Linked DNA regions of Homo sapiens: all the other regions are linked to region 1. The links come from fine-mapping of genetic effects on gene expression. A gene starts in region 1. Each other region holds a variant in brackets. All regions are shown on one strand. Distances are from middle to middle.

What was found. PIP is the estimated chance that this variant, and not a neighbour inherited with it, causes the effect. A credible set is the group of variants that fine-mapping cannot tell apart.
Region 2: its variant is the best candidate, but not a certain one, in a credible set for the expression of MIER2 in left ventricle (GTEx, PIP 0.82).
Region 3: its variant is the best candidate, but not a certain one, in a credible set for the expression of MIER2 in whole blood (TOPMed, PIP 0.84).
Region 4: its variant is the best candidate, but not a certain one, in a credible set for the expression of MIER2 in esophagus mucosa (GTEx, PIP 0.51).

What each region holds. Positions count from the first base shown.
Region 1 is chr19:342,390-347,537 of GRCh38, forward strand. It overlaps MIER2 (MIER family member 2), which reads right to left and starts at 2,407. Exons shown (of 14, transcript NM_017550.3): 1 at 2,385-2,407. The coding sequence starts at 2,393. RefSeq lists an enhancer at 512-1,463 and silencers at 1,772-1,881, 2,182-2,231, 2,302-2,751.
Region 2 is chr19:295,460-300,607 of GRCh38, forward strand. No RefSeq gene overlaps it. Among named protein-coding and RNA genes, the nearest start is that of PLPP2, 6.6 kb to the left of the region's middle. The variant A/C (reference allele first, on the strand shown) is at 1,943.
Region 3 is chr19:243,414-248,561 of GRCh38, forward strand. It overlaps LOC101928344 (a long non-coding RNA gene), which reads right to left and starts at 3,112. Exons shown (of 13, transcript XR_002958438.2): 1 at 2,984-3,112. LOC107985295 (a long non-coding RNA gene) reads right to left here and starts at 1,918. Exons shown (of 2, transcript XR_001753827.2): 1 at 1-1,918. The variant G/A (reference allele first, on the strand shown) is at 2,454.
Region 4 is chr19:385,356-390,503 of GRCh38, forward strand. It overlaps LOC124904606 (a long non-coding RNA gene), which reads left to right. Exons shown (of 3, transcript XR_007067071.1): 3 at 1-1,326. Among named protein-coding and RNA genes, the nearest start is that of SPMAP2, 12 kb to the left of the region's middle. RefSeq lists enhancers at 1,266-1,831, 1,832-2,396, 2,397-2,961, 3,527-4,092, 4,093-4,657. The variant G/T (reference allele first, on the strand shown) is at 1,959.

The DNA of each region.
Region 1 (5,148 bases):
AGTCGAGGTGGAACCATCGTTGGCAGCCCCCAAATGGGTAGAGTGCACCAGCAAACAGGAGCCCAGGGCCCTAGAGTAGGGGGCAGATCCGTGGGGACCACCTCACAGGGCTGTGGGACTCAGCAAGGAGGAGCATTTTATCCCAGGGACCATGAAAAGCCATGGAGGGTTTTAGGTAGGAGCAAAAGATGGTGCTCTTAGGTTTTTAAAAGATCAATCTAGTATGCCTGAGAAAAGTATGAAGCATTCCCGTCTGCCACTGTGGTGCTTATGATTATTCTGGGATACTGATACAGAATAAAGTAGCTAGTACTGATCACGTGCTATAAAGTTACAAATTGCCACTTTTACGGGTTAAAAACAGTGGAATATCGTCAACTTCACAAGATTCAACTTCCATGTACAAGCCGTTGTGGCAGGACCTCATCAGACCTCCTAGCTCTGAAGGGTGACCATTAAACTTCCCATTTCAGAGATGAGGAAAAGGAAGTTCTGAGTCACTGGGCAACCTGCCCAAGACCACACAGAACAAGTCCGGTGGTCAGACAGCTTGCCATGGCTCCTCACGCTCAGCACCTCATACTTGTTGGTCCTAACCCACCCACGTCTCTCTCTGACCAGACTCTGCATCCCTGTAGGAGAGGCCCTGTCTGCTCCATTCACTCCCAGATCCTCAGGCCGAGGACAGAGCGGGACCTCCTTAGAAAATCAAATCAAATTCACTCAACAGGGCACCACCCCAAAGTGTAAAACAGGGTTAACAGGAGCAGCCGGACCACAAGCTGCTGTGCACATTTACGGAGCTCAGCCTAGAGCAGGGCAGAACAGCCACATGGCAGCTCTGGGGGAGGCTGGCTTGGGAGTCTGACTTGTGCCATCCCAGACACAGAGCTACCTGTCAGGCCACGTGTGTTGCCCAGATTCCAGGAGCACAACTCATTCGACCACCACGTCGCTGCAGGGCCACTGGGAGACGCGGCTTCTGCCTCCGACCCTGGAGGACAGCCACCATCTGCATGGGGACTCAGTCTCCCTAAGCGTCTCAAGAAGAACTAATTCTCGATGAAGGAACTGGCCGGTGGTCTGGCCTAGTATCGAGACACCTACACCGTCTTTGGCATAAACACAGGGCCTGTTACTGCCCCTGAGGTCGTCACCAGGGGGAGAGAATGGCCAGTCCTGCCTCCCACAACGCCCAAGACATAAACACGCAACGTGGCACCACGGCCAGGCCGCAGTTCCAATCCCGGCTTCCCACGAGGCGGCTGTGCCTGGCTGGGTGGGCACCTTTTCCTTTGGGCTCTATCCCAGAGATAGGATCAGCTCTTGAGTCTGCCCGCCTGTCGTAACTTCTGCGCACAGAAGTCATGCACTGAGTCCCACTGACTGAGCACCTCGCAGCCGCCGCACCTTCACCTACATTATCTCTTTCCATCTTCACCAGGGCCCTCCAAGGTGAAAGCAAGTCCACACAGGCTCATCCACCACTCCAAAATCAAAAAAAGCTTCAAAAGCGAAAGTTTCTTCCTTCCTGGTTTGACCTGACACGAAGCTATCTGTTGTCTTATCCTAGACAGTCCTAGGTGGGTTTGATCAAACATCACAGTCCAAAATCCCACAGATCCTCAAATTGGAAAAATTCTGGATTCCAAAATATAGCTGGTCCCAAACATTTCAGATAAAGGGTCCCGGGCTTGTTTCCTGGACGAGGGAGGAGGCTCCAGAAGTAACTTCGTGCCCGGGAGAGGCTGGTCCAACTCTTCTGAGATCAGCCCCGACGCTCTCTAGGCCCCGGCAGACCCACCCACCCTGCGCCCAGTTCGCGCCAGGCGGGTCCGCGTCGGGAGTTCAAATCCCGCCCGGGGTCTGACCCAGCCCCGCCGGGGGGCTCGCGGGCGGCGGAGGCGCGGTGGGTCCACCGGGATCCCGATGGGGAGCGCGGGGCGCCTGGCGGCCCCAGCACTCGGCAAAGTTGGCAAAGGCGCGGGAGGGGAGGCCTGCGCGCCGCGGGGCCCGGGCCGGGGCCGGGAACCGGAGCCGGACCCTGGAACGGAGCCGCGCGCCCACCGGACCCCCGACACCAGCCCCGCCCCGCGTCCCTCCCCTCCCCCACCCCGGCCCCCGCCCGCCCCGCGCCGCCGCGCATGCGCACTGCAGCCCGCGATGTGGCAGCCGGGGGAGTTGGGGGGTGGGGGCCGGCCGGGGGCGGCCGCCGATGGAGCCCCGCGCCCCTCCGGCCCCGGACGGGCCAGGCGCCCCGGCCGGCCTCAGAGCTCCAGAGCGGGGCTCTCCGTCCCTGGGGCCCACGACGAGGCCGAGCCACGGCGGCGGGGGGCGCGGACGCGCGGGGGCGGGGGGCCGGCTCCCCCGGCCCGCTCACTCACCTCCGCCATGGCCGTGTGTGCGCGGGAGGCGGTGGCCGCGCCGGGATCCCCGGATGAGGGGCCGCGCACTCATTGGCTGTGGAGCCTGGAGGGCGGGGCAGGGGGCGGAGCCTGGAGGGGGCGGAGAGCGGGCCGGGCGCGTAGTAGGTGCGCGGGCGCGGGCGCGGGCGCGCAGCCGAGCGTGGCCGGCGGCTTCTGGCGAGCTTGCGGTGTCTTTCCGGCCGTCTCTGCTGGACCCTGATCTTGGCCTTGGCCTTGGCGGAGGAGACTGCATTCCATAAAAATACGAATTCCTGATAATCACACCTGCGTGGGGACCACGTGGTCCTGTGTGACCTCTTCATTCCCTCGGCTGCTCGCTGTTAATACCCCGCGTGGCAGACTAGGAAACTGAGGCCCAGGGCGACGGGCCACCCAGAGTGTCAGTGATAGAGCCAGAATTGGTGTCCGGGCTGCGTGGTTCTGGAATTTTCTGCACTTTCGCACCCGTGATGAGCAAACTAGCGCGCGGAGGAACCAATCGGGGAGCTTGCGAACGCGCACCAGTCGGAGAGGTTTTAGAAACGGTGGCCCCGCGCCGGAGAGCCCAAGGCGGGAGGCAGGGAGGTGGGCTTGACCCCAGGGCCATTTGGTTCTGCAGTCCGTCGTTTCGCAGATTGAACATTTCTGGAACACGTGCACGTTCTGATCCTGAGGGTTTGAAGGAGACAGCCCTAACGCCTGTCTTCAGGGCGTTTAGAGTGGAGGATGGGAAGGCAAGGACTCGCCACACCTTAAATTTGAGACGGATAAGTGCCGTGAATCTTCGGGGCGCACGATGCAGAGAGAGGATAGGAAGCAGGGGTGGGGCGTGAAGAGGCAGGGGCCAGGTGGGAGCTGTGGGGCCTGGACCAGAGTGCAGAGAGACTTGAGAAGGTGGACACCACAAGACTCGCTGATGGAGGGAAGCTGGAGAGAGTGAAGGATGGCCTCCAGATGTCTGGCTTGCGCAAATGAGTGGAGGGCGGTTCCTACTGAGACCAGGAAGAAGAGAACTGGAGACCAGGAAGAAGGGAATTGGGGACCAGGAGGAAGGGAATTGGGGACCAGGAAGAAGAGAATGAGTCTCATTCCTGTTTCCCAGTGATCAGCCAATGAATAGTGAGAACTTGACATGCATCAGCCTTGATTCCTGATGCAAAATCATTACTCAGTCCTCTGAGAATTCACCAACCAAGAGATAGAAGAACCACTCTGGAGGGGTCTACCCTCACTCCTTTTTTGGTTTACATCATTGAGATTGAGGGTTCTGGCCCTCGTGTTGAAGAGTCCTCACTGATTTGTGCAAGAGTTGGTTCCTTCCTTTATTATTCATTTGTTATTATTCATTCAGTCATTCAGTGAACTAAACACATATCTTATGCAGTCCTCAACTGGGTGCTGGGTAGCCAGAGGTCCTGTGAAGCAGGGAGAAGCATGAACAGATAAGAGAGTGAGGTGCTGTGCTGTAACAGGTGGAGGGGCCCGAAGACAAGGGCTTGAGTCCACCTGGCAAAACGAGGGAAGACTCTTAGGAGAGGGCTTGGCAAGAATCATCACATAGATGTCAAATGAGGACTTGGGTGAAGAGAAGGGTATTGTGGCTTGGAACGGTGACTCACACCTCTAATCCTAACACTTGGGGAGGCAGAGGCAGGAGGATCACTTGAGGTCAGGAGTTTGAGACCAGCCTGGGCAACAGGGTGAAACCCTGTCTCTACTAAAAATACAAAAATTATCCGGGCGTGGTGGCGAGTGCCCATAATCCCAGCTATTCTGTGGAGGCTAAGGCAAGAGAATCACTTGAACCTGGGAAGGCAGAGGTTGCAGTGAGCTAAGATCACTGCACTCCAGCCTGGGAAACAGAGTGAGACACTGTTTCAAAAAAAAAAAAAAAAAACTTTAAACATTAGAGGGCATGACGATAATGTGCCTGTAGTCCCAGCTACTCTGGAGGCCGAAGTGGGAGGATCTCTTGAGCCCAGGAGGTCGAGGCTGCGGTAAGCAGTGATTGTGCCACTGCACCCCAGCCTGGGCAACAGAGTGAGACCTGTCTCAAAAAAAAAAAAAAAAAAGAGTGAAGGATATTTTAAGGTCTGAAAGTCTGTCTCCGTAGACTGTTAGTCGCAGTGGAGAAATGAAGCCACTTGTTGGGTGGGTGATAAAACTCAGCATCCCTGGTAAAGGGCAGGTGCACACCATGTGCACCTGGATGTGGTGTCCAAAGCAGGACACGGCATCACTGAATCCAGCCAGCAATGCACAACCCATATCTACATATGAGGAAATTTCAGACAAACCCAAATAAGGAATATTCTGTTAAACAAAAGAGGGACTGTATTCTTCAGAAATGTTAATGCCACAATGGGGCGTGGTGGCGGGTGCCTGTAATCCCAGCTGCTCAGGAGGCTGAGGCAGGAGAATCACTTGAACCCGAGAGGCGGAGGTTGCAGTGAGCTGAGATTGCGCCACTACACTCCAGCCTGGGCGACAAGAGCAAAACTCCATCTCAAAACAAAACAGGCCAGGCGCTGTGGCTCACACCTGTAATCCCAGCACTTTGGGAGGCTGAAGCAGGAAGATCACGAGGTCAGGAGTTCAAGACCAGCCTAGCTAGCATGGTGAAACCTGATCTCTACTAAAATAATACAAAAAATTAGCCGGGCGTGGTGGTGCACACCTGTAGTCCCAACTACTCGGGAGGCTGAGGCAAGAGAATCGCTTGAAACCGGGAGGTGGAGGCTGC
Region 2 (5,148 bases), 47 kb before region 1:
TTACATTTGAATCCCAGAAGAGCAACAAACCGGTTTTCAGTATGTGTCCCGAATACTGCATGGGACATACTTACACATTCGTTTATCTGTAATCCGAGCCCAACTGGGCATCCTGTATTTTATCTGGCCATCCTACCCAGGAACTACAAACCGAGAAAACAAGGACCATCAGGGAGAGAGAAACAGCTGGGTCAGGTCAGTGGGGGCCCAGACAGCGCCAGTCCAGGGCCCGGACATCTTCAACAAAGCCTGGGCCTGGGAGGCTGAGGCTCTGGGGACCGTGGCCGGTCCAGGACCATCAGTTCTGAGCGACTTTCTCCCTCCCCCACTTCCACCCCCACAGAAATTGTCTCAGGAGGGCTGATCTCCAGGCAGGCCCCTGGCTAACGCCTGCTTCCTGGCACGGCCATGGACTCTGTCCAGAACAGATTTCCATATTTGGTTAGCAGGTAGGAAGGAGGTCATCAAAGACCTTCACTTCACTGTAAAAGGAAAGCATTAAATAAACGAACACAAATGACTTTTATTTATGGCTGCCGAAAAGCTGAGGACAGTAAGTTTGTTCTAGAGAGGTATGAGCTCCCCTGAGGTTAGTCAAGACCAAGTCTGGTGGAGGCCTCATTAGTCCTAGGAGCCTGGTGTCAGACAAATCCGGAAGAGCCCCAAGGCACAGCGGGCCCTCCAGGTCCTCCTGCCTGGGTCTGGGCTGCAGGAAGGGCAGGATTCCACCACCCCACAGCTAACCCAGAGGCAAAGCTACGCTACACAAGCGGTGAGCAGGCCAGCCCAGCTCCTCGAGACCAGCACATCAACCCAGCTGCTGACAGGAGAGGGGCAAGCCCTTCCTGAGGCAAAACAGTATCCCCTCTGCTCCTTAACTGTCTTACCCACATCTAGTGCACCCTCAGAAACACAAGACACCATGGACAAGAACAGAATATTAGTCAACAATGGCATCCCAGGGTCTCTCCCAGCTCCAACCTATCTTAGATATTCCAGTCAAATCCAATCTCCCTAAAGCGTGACTCTACTTCAGCTAAAAAACACACTAAGGCTCCCCACTGCCTTCCCAGTTTCAGATTTCTTGGCCTAAGAGGGAAGTTGTTCCTGCACTGCCCTCCTGACCTCTGTGCTCACCCCACACAAATGGGACGCTCATGCCTCTGGGTGGCTGCGCCCGGCCTGCCCATGTGCTCCTCCCTCTTACTATTCCTTCTCCATGGGGCCTGCCCTGCTACCGAAGGGGAACAAGGGACCCTGGCCTGGCCAACCAGGAAACCCCTTCTGCTCGGCAGTTCCTGATTCAGTTATGGGCACGAGACCCAAGAACAAATTTTACCCAGGAGTTTTGTTAGAACAGTTGGGCAAGATACAGGCTTCCCACAGAAATCACAGATGTAAGGTTGTGTGCCTGGAGCTTCTGGTGCCATCTCAGTCGCCACAAAGGGCGCTGCCCCTGAGAAGAAGGTCAGTTCGGGCAGCAGAGAAATAGAAGCACCGAAACATCATAATGTGGATGGTGACTCCTGATTCCTGTTTCTGGAGGCCCTGGCATCCCCGGACTGGGTCTTAAGAGTATAACTTTCGGGCTGGGCACAGCGGCTCACGCCTGTCATCCCAGCACTTTGGGAGGCCGAGGAGGGCAGATCACAAGGTCAAGAGTTTGAGACCAGCCTGGCCAACATGGTGAAAGCCCGTCTCTACTAAGAATACAAAAATTAGCCGGGCGTGGCAGCGTGTGCGGTGTGGTGGTGTGCGCCTGTAATCCCAGCTACTCCGGAGGCTGAGGCAGGAGAATCACTTAAACCTGGGAGGCAGGGGTTGCAGTGAACTGAGATCACACCACTGCACTCCAGCCTGGGCAACAAAGCGAGACGCCGTCTCAAAAAAAAAAAGAAAAAGAAAAGGAAAAAAAGGGCTGGGCTCAGTGGCTCACGCCTGT[A/C]ATCCCAGCACTTTGGGAGGCCGAGGCGGGTGGATCACCTGAGGTCAGGAGTTCAAGACCATCCTGGCAAACATGGTGAAACCTCGTCTCTACTAAAAATACAAAAACTAGCCGGGCATGGTGGTGGGTGCCTGTAGTCCCAGCTACTCGGGAGGCTGAGGCAGGACAATATCACTTGAACCTGGGAAGTGGCAGTTGCTGTGCGCCGAGTTCACGCCGCTGCACTCCAGCCTGGGCGATAGAGCGAGACCTCGTCTCAAAAAAAAAAAAAAAAAAAAAAAAGCAAAGCAATAGGATGACAATGATTTAAAGTAACTATTATTAAAAGGTTAAAGATTACAGAAGAAAAGATAGGGGCAAGGTGAGAAAATGGAGAATTTCAGCAGAAAAATTAAAAACACATAAGAGCACCTATTAAAATATACAATATGGGAAATAAAAATTTTGTGAAACAGACTAAATAGAAATCTGGAATATCAGAAAAGAGGATTGGTAGCATCAAAGACATGTCGATAGAAATTATTCAGAGGCCGGGCACACTGGCTCACGCCTGTAATCCCAGTACTTTGGGAGGCCGAGGCAGGTGGCTCACGAGGTCAGGAATTCAAGACCAGCCTGGCCAATATGGTGAAACCCCGTGTCTACTAAAAATAAAACAAAAATTAGCCGGGTGTGGTGGCGCACACCTATAATCCCAGCTACTGGGAAGGCTGAGGCAGGAGAATCGCTTGAACCCAGGAGATGGAGGTTGCAGTGAGCCGACATCATCGACATCATGCCACTGCACTCCAGCCTGGGTGACAGAGCAAGACTCCGTCTCCCAAAAAAAAAAAAAAAAAAAAGAAATTATTCAAACAGAAGCACAGAGAGAGAGAAAAATAAAAGAGAGAGCTGTGAGGCAACACCGAGGGTTGTAACATTAGTGACTGGAGAGACTGTGGGTCACCCATGGCCATGACACCAGTGACTGGAGAGACTGTGGGACACCCATGGCCGTGACACCAGTGACTGGAGGGACTGTGGGTCACCCATGGTCGTGACACCAGTGACTGGCGAGACTGTGGGACACCCAGGGCCGTGACACCAGTGACTGGAGGGACTGTGGGACACCCATGGCCGTGACACCAGTGACTGGAGGGACTGTGGGACACCCATGGCCGTGACACCAGTGACTGGCGAGACTGTGGGACACCCAGGGCCGTGACACCAGTGACTGGAGAGACTGTGGGTCACCCAGGGCCGTGACACCAGTGACTGGAGGGACTGTGGGACACCCATGGCAGTGACACCAGTGACTGGAGGGACTGTGGGTCACCCATGGCCGTGACACCAGTGACTGGAGAGACTGTGGGTCACCCATGGCCGTGACACCAGTGACAGTGACTGTGGGACACCCATGGCCGTGACACCAGTGACTGGAGGGACTGTGGGACACCCATGGCCGTGACACCAGTGACAGTGACTGTGGGTCACCCAGGGCCGTGACACCAGTGACTGGAGGGACTGTGGGACACCCAGGGCCGTGACACCAGTGACTGGAGAGACTGTGGGTCACCCATGGCCGTGACACCAGTGACAGTGACTGTGGGACACCCATGGCCGTGACACCAGTGACTGGAGGGACTGTGGGACACCCATGGCCGTGACACCAGTGACTGGAGGGACTGTGGGTCACCCAGGGCCGTGACACCAGTGACTGGAGGGACTGTGGGACACCCAGGGCCGTGACACCAGTGACTGGAGGGACTGTGGGTCACCCAGGGCCGTGACACCAGTGACTGGAGGGACTGTGGGACACCCATGGCCGTGACACCAGTGACTGGAGGGACTGTGGGACACCCATGGCCGTGACACCAGTGACTGGAGGGACTGTGGGTCACCCAGGGCCGTGACACCAGTGACTGGAGAGACTGTGGGACACCCATGGCCGTGACACCAGTGACTGGAGGGACTGTGGGTCACCCAGGGCCGTGACACCAGTGACTGGAGAGACTGTGGGACACCCATGGCCGTGACACCAGTGACTGGAGGGACTGTGGGTCACCCATGGCCGTGACACCAGTGACTGGAGGGACTGTGGGACACCCATGGCCGTGACACCAGTGACTGGAGAGACTGTGGGTCACCCATGGCCGTGACACCAGTGACTGGAGAGACTGTGGGTCACCCATGGCCGTGACACCAGTGACAGTGACTGTGGGACACCCATGGCCGTGACACCAGTGACTGGAGACTGTGGGACACCCAGGGCCGTGACACCAGTGACTGGAGAGACTGTGGGACACCCATGGCCGTGACACCAGTGACTGGAGAGACTGTGGGTCACCCATGGCCGTGACATCAGTGACTGGAGAGACTGTGGGTCACCCATGGCCGTGACACCAGTGACAGTGACTGTGGGACACCCAGGGCCGTGACACCAGTGACTGGAGAGACTGTGGGTCACCCATGGCCGTGACATCAGTGACTGGAGAGACTGTGGGTCACCCATGGCCGTGACACCAGTGACAGTGACTGTGGGACACCCATGGCCGTGACACCAGTGACTGGAGAGACTGTGGGACACCCATGGCCGTGACACCAGTGACTGGAGAGACTGTGGGACACCCATGGCCGGGACACCAGTGACTGGAGAGACTGTGGGACACCCATGGCCGTGACACCAGTGACTGGAGGCTGTGGGACACCCAGGGCCGTGACACCAGTGACTGCAGAGACTGTGGGACAACACCCAGGGCCGTGACACCAGTGACTGGAGACTGTGGGACAACACCCAGGGCCGTGACACCAGTGACTGGAGGGACTGTGGGACACCCATGGCCGTGACACCAGTGACTGGAGGGACTGTGGGTCACCCATGGCCGTGACACCAGTGACTGGAGGGACTGTGGGACACCCATGGCCGTGACACCAGTGACTGGAGAGACTGTGGGACACCCATGGCCGTGACACCAGTGACTGGAGGGACTGTGGGTCACCCAGGGCCGTGACACCAGTGACTGGAGAGACTGTGGGACACCCAGGGCCGTGACACCAGTGACTGGAGGGACTGTGGGACACCCATGGCCGTGACACCAGTGACTGGAGGGACTGTGGGTCACCCAGGGCCGTGACACCAGTGACTGGAGAGACTGTGGGACACCCATGGCCGTGACACCAGTGACTGGAGGGACTGTGGGTCACCCATGGCCGTGACACCAGTGACT
Region 3 (5,148 bases), 99 kb before region 1:
CAATCATTCACAGCGTGGGAGAGGGGAAGTTGAAGGATGGAAAGGCCAGGCATAAAAGGATTTCAGAATTTCCGTCCATAAGGAAGTAGCTTTGTGCACTGTCTGTTACTGTGTGCAAGGTGAAATTTGAAGAATGAAAACGTGCAGTAACAAGGGCTCCTTTGTCCAACTCACCTCTCCAGATACCAAGTTTCAGACATGTTGCATTTTAATTGAAAGGTTGATATAATTTTTTTTAAAGAACACTTGCGGTGTTTGAAGTGACAAAGGCTGCTGTGACAAAAAAGCAGGGAAAGGGAATTTTTTTTTAAAAGCAAACAACAACAACAAAAACCCCACAGAAAAGCAAACAACAAACAAACAAAAAACAGAGGAAGAAGTCGAACACCCTGGGCTGTGACTACTTCCAGGAAGGGGCTACAAGAGGCAGTTGGAAATTCTATTTGTTTTGCAACTGTGGGTTTTCCGGCCCGCTTCCTTTCTAAAGTATATTACTCTGCTTTTGGTTCATGAAGTTATCCATTTCTGTTTTCTGGAACAGCTATGTATTTTCTTTATCTATCATCTATCTATCTATTTACCATCTATCTTTTCTACCTTTCGCTATCAAGAGCTTGGGTCAAGCAGGATAGAATTCCAGTGTATGTTCACTCTACCATTTAAAACAAGAGCTCTTGTAGGCATTCTCCATCACATCATAAACCTGAGCTTTCTAAAACAGGGTGTGGCAAACTACCATGCATGGACCATGTCTGACACAGTCTGCGTTTGTAAGTAAAGTTGTAATGGGACACAGCCAATACATGTGTTACATAATGTCTCTGGCTATTTTCATGGTATAATGGAAGAGCTGAGTCATTGAGAGAGAGACCATATGGCTTGGAAAACTTAAAATATTTAACATTTAGCCCCTTGCAGAAAATACTTGCTGACTCTTGTTTAAAAGATCTCTGTTTAGAATGCTACCTATTGAGTTCTGGATAGAATCACAACTCTTTACCACAATCAACACCGCTTCAGCCCTGCTTCTATATCCAGCCTCATCTATTTCTGCTCCTCCTCATTTTCCTTCTGGCCATGCTGATGGATTGTCAGCTTCCCAGATGTGTGAGAATCTCTCCTCCCTTCCTAACATTCTCATGCTCTCCCTCTGCCTCTCAAGAACTTCCTGCCCCATCTCTCATGACAAATCCTTTCTACATTCTTTAAGATGCAGCCCTTTTGCTCCTTCCTTAAGGATGTCTTGTCTGGCTCTATTTTGGGTGACGTGCTCCTTCTGCATCTCCCAGAGCCAGCCTGTGTGTGTCAGCTACAACATTTCTTTGCATCTCTGTGTCATATATCACCAAATCTGCCTAAGCTTGCATGAGTCACTGCATGACAACTTCAGACTCCACCAGCATTGTCCCCACTAACCACAAGGCTTAGACATTCGTCCAGTATGCTCGGGGTTGTGGGGTGGTAGCAGTAACTGGCTGGTGACCATCATTTCTTACATCAGAATCAAATCTGTAGATCTCTGCCATTCATAAGTATTTGGAGTTTAAAATTAGCATAAAGATTTTCCTTAAAATAAGAAGAAAGGCCTTGAGTAGGCTTTTGGAACATAGGATGTTTCCACTGGTTCATTTCTGTGTTCAATATTCCCACATGAATCTGAACACGACTCTGCTCTTAGTAGCTATGTGACCCTGGGAAAGTCACTCAATCTCCCTCAGCTAAATTTTGTTGTGTGAGTAATGAGGAGAGAGTTGTGATTTGTATTTAGTGAATAATAACAAACAAAAGGCATTTAGCTTTCTGGAACCTGGTATGTAGTAGAACCTCATGAAATACTAGCTCTGTTGATAAAACTAGACTGAAAGAAGCTTTCAAAGTCAACAACAGTTTGAGGCAGTGAAGGACGTAGAGGAGAAGCTGCTGCTGCAGTCTGTAGCTCCTGGAAGCCCGTTTTGTCCATGATTTAGCAGGAATGCATTACCCTTCCATGAGGAGGCACAGCCCACAGAAACCAAGGCCATTCTTTGAAGAAAAACATGTCTTAATAGGGTTTACATTATGTAACAGTGTAATACAAATAATAATTTATTATTAGTAATAATATAAAATTATTTACAGTACCGTAACCCTAACTCTAACCCCTAATCCTAACCCTAACCCCTAACCCTAATCCTAACCCAAACCCTAACCCTAACCCAACCCTAACCCTAACCCAACCCTAACCCAAACCTGACCCTAGCCCCTAAACCTAACCCTAACCCCTAACTCCTAACCCTAACCCCTAACCCTAACCCTAACCTTAACCCCTAACCCCTATCCCTAACCCTAACCCCTAACCCCATAACCCCAACCCTAAACCCAACCCCAACCCCAACCCCTGACCCTGACCCTGACCCTGACCCCGACCCCTAACCCTAAACCCTAACCCCTAACCCTAACCCTACCCCTAGCCC[G/A]AACCCGAACCCTAACCCTAACCCCTAACCCTAACCCCTAACCCTAACCCTACTCCAACCCCAACCCCAACCCTAACCCCTAACCCCTAATCCCCTAACCCTAACCCCTAACCCCTAACCCTCACCCTAACCCTAAACCACATGAGCAATGTGGGTGTTATATTTTGGGTGTCATGTGTGCCTTAGGAATGCTGCATTTGTATTCCAACGCTGCAACTGGACCCTGCAATGCAGCCCCTCGCCTTGCCTTGGGAGAATCTCGGTGCGCAGGATTCAGAGGGGCTTTTGGTTTCCCGTTTTCCACACTGAACCGTTCTAACTGGTCTCTGCCCTTGATTATTCACGGCTGCAACCGGGAAAGATTTAATTCACCGTCGATGCGGCCCCGAGTTGTCCCAAAGCCAGGCAGTGCCCCCAACGTCTGTGCTTAGGAGAATGCTGCTCCACCTTTACGGTGTCCCCCAGGTCTGTGCTAAGCAGAACGCAGCTCCGCCCTCGCGGTGCCCTCAGCCCGCCCGCCCGGGTCTGACCTGAGGAGAACTCTGCTCCGCCTTCGCAGTACCACTGAAATCTGTGCAGATGAGAACGCAGCTCCGCCCTCGCGATGCTCTCCGCGTCTGTGCTGAGGAGAACCCAACTCCGCTCTCGCAAAGGCACGGCGCGCCGGCGCCGGCGCAGGCAGGCGCGGCGCGCCCGCGCAGGCGCTGTTCGGGAGACGCGGCGCAGGGCATAGACGCACGCCTCCGCGTCCCCGGAGGGGAGGGGTCTCTGGGCGGGCGGGAGTGAGGCGCGGCGCAGGTGCAGGCGCAGAGACGCACGTCGCTGGGCTCAGGGTGGCGGGGCGTGTTGCAGGTGTACAGTCGCACGCCGCTGGGCGGGGAGCGCGGGAATGGCGAGGTGCAGGCGCAGACACACGTCCCCGGCGGCGCGGCGCACAGACGGGTGGAACCTGAGTAATCTGAAAAGCCCGGTTCGGGTGCCCCCTGCTTGTACCCGGGCACTACAGGACCCGCTTGCCCACGGTGCTGTGCCATTGCGCCCCCTGCTGGCGACTAGGGCAACTGCAGGGCCCTCTTCCTTACAGTGGTGTCCAGCGCCCCCTGCCGGTGCCGGGGCACGGCAGGGCTCTCTTGCTCGCAGTATACTGGCGGCACGCCGCCTGCTGGCAGCTAGGGACATTGCAGGGCCCTCTTGCTCACATTGTAGTGGCAGCACACCCGCCTGCTGGCAGCTGGGGACACTGCTGGGCCCTCTTGCTTGCAGTGTAGTCGGGGCATGCCCTCTTCTGTCCGCTGGGGGCACTACAGGATCCTCTTGCTCACAGTGTAGTGGCAGCACGCCCCCTGCTGGCAACCAGGGCACTTCACGGTCCTCTTGCTCATGGTGTGGTGCCCCTACGCCACCTCCTGGCAGCTAAGGACACTGCAGGGCCCTCTTGCTCACAGTGTAGTCGTCGTTCGCCCCCTGCTGGCAGCTAGGGACACTGCCGGGCCCTCTTGCTGACACTGTCGTGGCTGCACGCCACCTGCAGGCAGATGGGGACTAGGCAGGGCCCTCTTGCTCCCGGTGTGACGGCTGGCGTCCCCTACTGGCCGCCTCCTGCACCACTTAAAGTCAGAGCGCCAGTTATTAATCCCCATCAGTTCTGTAAATTAAAACTGAAAAGGAGCTATTACTGGGGAGAGCTGATGTCCCAGTTATTAACTTGGAAGAAAGATTTTCACCAAGAGGCAGTACAAAGATGGAAGATAACTTCATTGAAAAGAAATACAGTGTAAAGAGCTTATTGTAGGAAAATAGGGAGGAGTGGGTTCATAGTGCATGAAAACAGCCTAAGAGTCCTGTGCAGGGAATTTTATTTTGGACTTCTTCACATTCCTGCCTCTGTCTCAAGTCTATGCTTGTTTTCCTTGGTTTTCCTGCTACTGCCTTAGGTCCCTGACTTGCCCCACTTAGGCTTGTGGGACCTCCTGTTGATTGAGGTACACGTGGGGTGATGAATCTGAATCCACTCTGGCACCAACCTCCTTCCTGCCATCCCAGGCAGGCTGACAGCAGTCACGTTTGTATCTACTGCACCTGCCTCTTTTGAATGTCTTTCTCTGCCCTAATCTGTACTTATGGTGCCAGGTTTCTCTTAGGAATGTCCCCTTTGTCCTTCTTATCAGCATGTAGCTAGCAATATTCTGACATTTTTATTGCAGAGTGAATGATGATTGGGGCATCTTAAGAGAAGTTCTAGGGTGTTTCTGCGTAGGTACCTCTTCTCCCTCCTAACCACAATTGACAAGTGCCCATCCTCTCCAGCACTGGAGATGCTACTAATATGTGCATTTTTGGTGGTCCCTCCAGGTGAGCCTTCACAGACTTTCCCTTTTCCAGGAGCTCCCCCTCCTGTTCATGTCTAGCTAGCTATCTACTCTAACAGAGCCCACTATCCTGTGTCTTTCCCAAAAATAGTGAGGGAATTATTAATTGGAAACCATAAGAAATCATATGCATGTAGATGAAAACTTTACAACTTACACAAATAATCACTCAAAATCATCCTTACACTAAAAAAGCAAAACTATACAATTTCTAGAAGAAACTATAGAAGAAAAGCTATGTGCCTTTGCGTTTGGTAATGAATTTTAACAAATGACACAGAAGGTTGATATACACAGAAGAAATGACAATGTGGATTTCTTAATAT
Region 4 (5,148 bases), 43 kb after region 1:
GAAAGAATGTGTGGCCAATAGTGCGGTGATATTACAAAACAATGAATTCGGAACTATTATAGATTGGGCACCTCGAGTCAATTCTACCACAGTTGCTCAGGACAAACTCGGTCGTGTCCAAGTGCACAAGTGAGTCCAGCTGTTGATAGCGACTTAACAGAAACTCTAGACAAACATAAGCATAAAAAATTACAGTCTTTCTACCCTTGGGTATGGGGAGAAAAAGGAATCTCTACCCCAAGACCAAAAATAATAAGTCCTGTTTCTGGTCCTGAACATCCAGAATTATGGAGGCTTACTGTGGCCTCACACCACATTAGAATTTGGTCTGGAAATCAAACTTTAGAAACAAGAGATTGTAAGCCATTTTATACTATCCACCTAAATTCCAGTCCAACGGTTCCTTTACAAAGTTGCGTAAAGCCCCCCCTTATATGCTAGTTGTAGGAAATATAGTTATTAAACCAGACTCTCAAACTATAACCTGTGAAAACTGCAGATTGTTTACTTGCATTGATTTGACTTTTAATTGGCAACACCGTATTCTGCTGGGGAGGGCAAGAGAGGGCGTGTGGGTCCCCGTGTCCACGGACTGACCGCAGGAGGCCTTGCCATCCGTCCGTATTTTGACTGAAGTATTAAAAGGCGTTTTAAATAGATCCAAAAGATTCATTTTTACTTTAATTGCAGTGATTATGGGATTAATTGCAGTCACAGCTACGGCTGCTGTAGCAGGAGTTGCATTGCACTCTTCTGTTCAGTCGGTAAACTTTTAATGATTGGCAAAAAAATTCTACAAGATTATGGAATTCACAATCTAGTATTGATCAAAAATTGGCAAATCAAATAATGATCTTAGACAACCTGTCATTTGGATGGGAGACAGGCTCATGAGCTTAGAACATTATTTCCAGTTACAGTGTGACTGGAATACGTCAGACTTTTGTATTACACCCCAAATTTATAATGAGTCTGAGCATCACTAGGACATAGTTAGACGCCATCTACAGGGAAGAGAAGATAATCTCACTTTAGACATTTCCAAATTGAAAGAACAAATTTTCGAAGCATCAAAAGCCCATTTAAATTTGGTGCCAGGAATGGAGGCAATCGCAGGAGTGGCTGATGGCCTCGCAAATCTTAACCCTGTCGCTTGGGTTACGACCATCGGAAGTTCTATGATTATAAATCTCATATTAATCCTTGTGTGCCTGTTTTGTCTGTTGTTAGTCTGCAGGTGTACCCAACAGCTCCGAAGAGACAGCGACCATCGAGAACGGGCCATGATGACGATGGCGGTTTTGTCGAAAAGAAAAGGGGGAAATGTGGGGAAAAGCAAGAGAGATCAGATTGTTACTGTGTCTGTGTAGAAAGAAGTAGACATGGGAGACTCCATTTTGTTCTGTACTAAGAAAAATTCTTCTGCCTTGAGATTCGGTGACCCCACCCCCAACCCCGTGCTCTCTGAAACATGTGCTGTGTCCACTCAGGGTTGAATGGATTAAGGGCGGTGCGAGACGTGCTTTGTTAAACAGATGCTTGAAGGCAGCATGCTCGTTAAGAGTCATCACCACTCCCTAACCTCAAGTACCCAGGGACACAAACACTGCGGAAGGCCGCAGGGTCCTCTGCCTAGGAAAGCCAGGTATTGTCCAAGGTTTCTCCCCATGTGACAGTCTGAAATATGGCCTCGTGGGAACGGAAAGACCTGACCGTCCCCCAGCCCGACACCCGTAAAGGGTCTGTGCTGAGGAGGATTAGTAAAAGGAAGGAATGCCTCTTGCAGTTGAGACAAGAGGAAGGCATCTGTCTCCTGCCCCTCCCTGGGCAATGGAATGTCTCGGTATAAAACCCGATTGTACGTTCCATCTACTGAGATAGGGAAAAACCGCCTTAGGGCTGGAGGTGGGACCTGCGGGCAGCAATACTGCTTTGTAAAGCATTGAGATGTTTATGTG[G/T]ATGCATATCTAAAAGCACAGCACTTAATCCTTTACCTTGTCTATGATGCAAAGACCTTTGTTCACGTGTTTGTCTGCTGACCCTCTCCCCACTATTGTCTTGTGACCCTGACACATCCCCCTCTTCAAGAAACACGCACGAATGATCAATAAATACTAAGGGAACTCAGAGGCTGGCGGGATCCTCCATATGCTGAACGCTGGTTCCCCGGGTCCCCTTATTTCTTTCTCTATACTTTGTCTCTGTGTCTTTTTCTTTTCCAAGTCTCTTGTTCCACCTAACGAGAAACACCCACAGGTATGGAGGGGCAACCCACCCCTTCACAGGTCAAATTGGCTTTAAGGTCCCAGTAAGAACTCTGTGTGTCCTTCACCTGGTCACCCGCTGTGAACGACCTGCCGCCCTGTGTTATCCTCCTGTCGGTTTTTTCCTGAACATTTGAAGCTAAGTTGTAGATGTCATGCACCTCCACCCCTAAAAATTTCAGTATTTATGTATTTCTTTATTTTTGAGGCAGTGCCTTGCTCTGTCATCCAGGCTGGAGTGCAACAGTGAATCTCCACACACTGCTGCCTCAACTTCCTGAGGTCAAGCGATCCCCCCAACGCAGACTCCCGAGTAGCTGGGACCACAGGGGCTCTGAGTCTCAGCGTCGGCCGTGTGTCCTCGAGTACACATCAGGGTCTCAGCCTCGGCCACGTGTGTCTGTGAGTACACAGCAGGGTCTCAGCCTCGGCCACGTGTGTCTGTAAGTACACGGCAGGGTCTCAGCCTCGGCCGCGTGTGTCTGTGAGTACACGGCAGGGTCTCAGCCTCGGCCGCGTGTGTCTGTGAGTACACTGCAGGGTCTCAGCCTCGGCCGCGTGTGTCTGTGAGTACACGGCAGGGTCTCAGCCTCGGCCGCGTGTGTCTGTGAGTACACTGCAGGGTCTCAGCCTCGGCCGCGTGTGTCTGTGAGTACACGGCAGGGTCTCAGCCTCGGCCGCGTGTGTCTGTGAGTACACGGCAGGGTCTCAGCCTCGGCCGTGTGTCCTCGAGTACACATCAGGGTCTCAGCCTCGGCCTTGATCATCTATCCTTGTTATATAATAAGCTCACATAAATTAGTAACAGGTCAAAACCCCGGCAGGAGGATGAGTGAGAACTTGGATGAGCAAGTTACAAATGGAAGAAATACGGTGGCCAAGATCTTAGGAACACATATCCAGCCTTAAGAAATTCAAGTTAAGGGCGGGGCGCAGTGACTCAGGCCTGTAATCCCAGCACTTTGGGAGGCCGAGGCGGACGGATCACCTGAGGTCAGGAGTTCGAGACCAGCCTGGCCAACATGGTGAAACCCCGTCTCTACTAAAAATACAAAAATCAGCCGGGCGTGATGGTGCATGCCTGTAATCTCAGCTACTCGAGAGGCTGAGGGAGAAGAATCACTTGAACCCGGGAGGTGGAGGTTGCATTGAGCTGAGAGAGACAGAGAGACGTGCAGGGTTGACAAGGATGGGCTGGCGTGGGGGCAGGCCCCACACCCTCAGCCCTGCACGGGCGCAGCCCTCAGAAGGGAACTGGGCGGCAGGTACCTGCATCACAGATGCTCCGTCCTTGGGCCCAGGATCTTCACCCCCAGTCATCTGTCTTGTGGAGTGTGTCGCTATGAAGAGGTCCCTGAGGCTGGGTCGTTCATAACGAAGAGGGTTCATTTGCTCACGGTTCTGCGGGCCGTACAGGAAATGTGACACCGGCCTCTGGGCCGCTTCTGGGGAGGCCGGGGAGGTTTACCCATCAAGGAAGGTGAAGAGGGAGCTGGTGTGTCACGGGTGAGAGGGAGCAAGAGGGAAGGTGCCGCACTCCTAAATGGCTCTCAGGTGAGCAACAGGCAGGACGGGGGACGGTGCCGCACTCCTAAATGGCTCTCAGGTGAGCAACAGGCAGGACGGGGGATGGTGCCGCACTCCTAAACAGCTCTCAGGTGAGCGAGAGTTAGCAAGGGGGAAGGTGCCGCAATCGTAAACAGCTCTCAGGTGAGCAAGAACTCAACTCACGTGTCACCAAGGGCATGGGCTAAGCCCTGCAGGCGGGATCTACCCCGTGAGCCAGCACCTCCCACCAGGCCTCACACCAACTCTGGGCGTCACATTTCCGCATGAGATTTGGAGGGACACATGTGTCCAAACATGTCACAGAGCACGTAGTCAGTGACGTTCACACATGAATATTCATCCCAGATTTACTCATGGTAATGAAACCCTCAACACGACAGCAGAGTTTGGGTGTGTTCCTAAGAGCGGGTGGTTTGCAGATGTTCACCTCATCCAAAAACATCCTCACAGACCTGCCCAGAATGATGTTTGACCAAACTTCTGGGGATCCTGCGGCCCAGTCGAGTTCACACAAAAAATTCACCAACACACTCGGCATTCCGGGGAAGCTGGGGACGCGTGAGGGGCCACCAGGTGGCTGCAGAGACAGTGTCTGAGCTGTGAGGTCTATTTTCAGCCCAAAGAGTCGGCTTCTGGGGAACAGCCCAAGATGCCCTTGGAGGAGAGGCTGGGACGAGTCCCCCAGTCCCTCTGCAGCCCCAACCCCCAACCCAGCCCTTGACAAGCCCCTCCCCTCCAGACACAGGGCAATGCCCCTCTCCGTCTCTCTGTCTCTCTCTCTCTCCCCTCCCTCTTTCTCTGTCCTCCGTGTGTCTGCCTGTCCTCTGAGTCCACCACTGGCCTCTTGCACGTGCCCTGCCCGTGGCTCCTGCCCTCACGTCTCTGCTCGCTCCCGTATCCCCCATGAGCTGGTTCTGGGAGGCCGCGGTCTGGCTTGTGGGGACCCATCCATTTCTCTCCTGGGGCCTGAGCTGGGGTTGGGGTTCTAGAGCAGCGCAGGCCAAGACCCCACGGTAATGGGAGACAGAGGTGGGTAGAGCGTGGCCTCCAAGACATGATTCTGAACAATGCAGACCCATGGCTGTAACAGATGCAGCCCATGTAGCCTGAGAGTAGGGTCACTGTACAACTACAGATGCCATCAACAAAACTCCGTGTAGCAACATCCTCCCACTCAGTCCTCGAGCAGCCCTGAAGGCACAGCCACCATTGCTCCCTGTCACAGATGGGAACACCAAGACAGCCACCATTGCTCCCTGTCACAGATGGGAACACTGAGGCGAGTCCTCGAGCAGCCCTGAAGGTGCAGCCACCA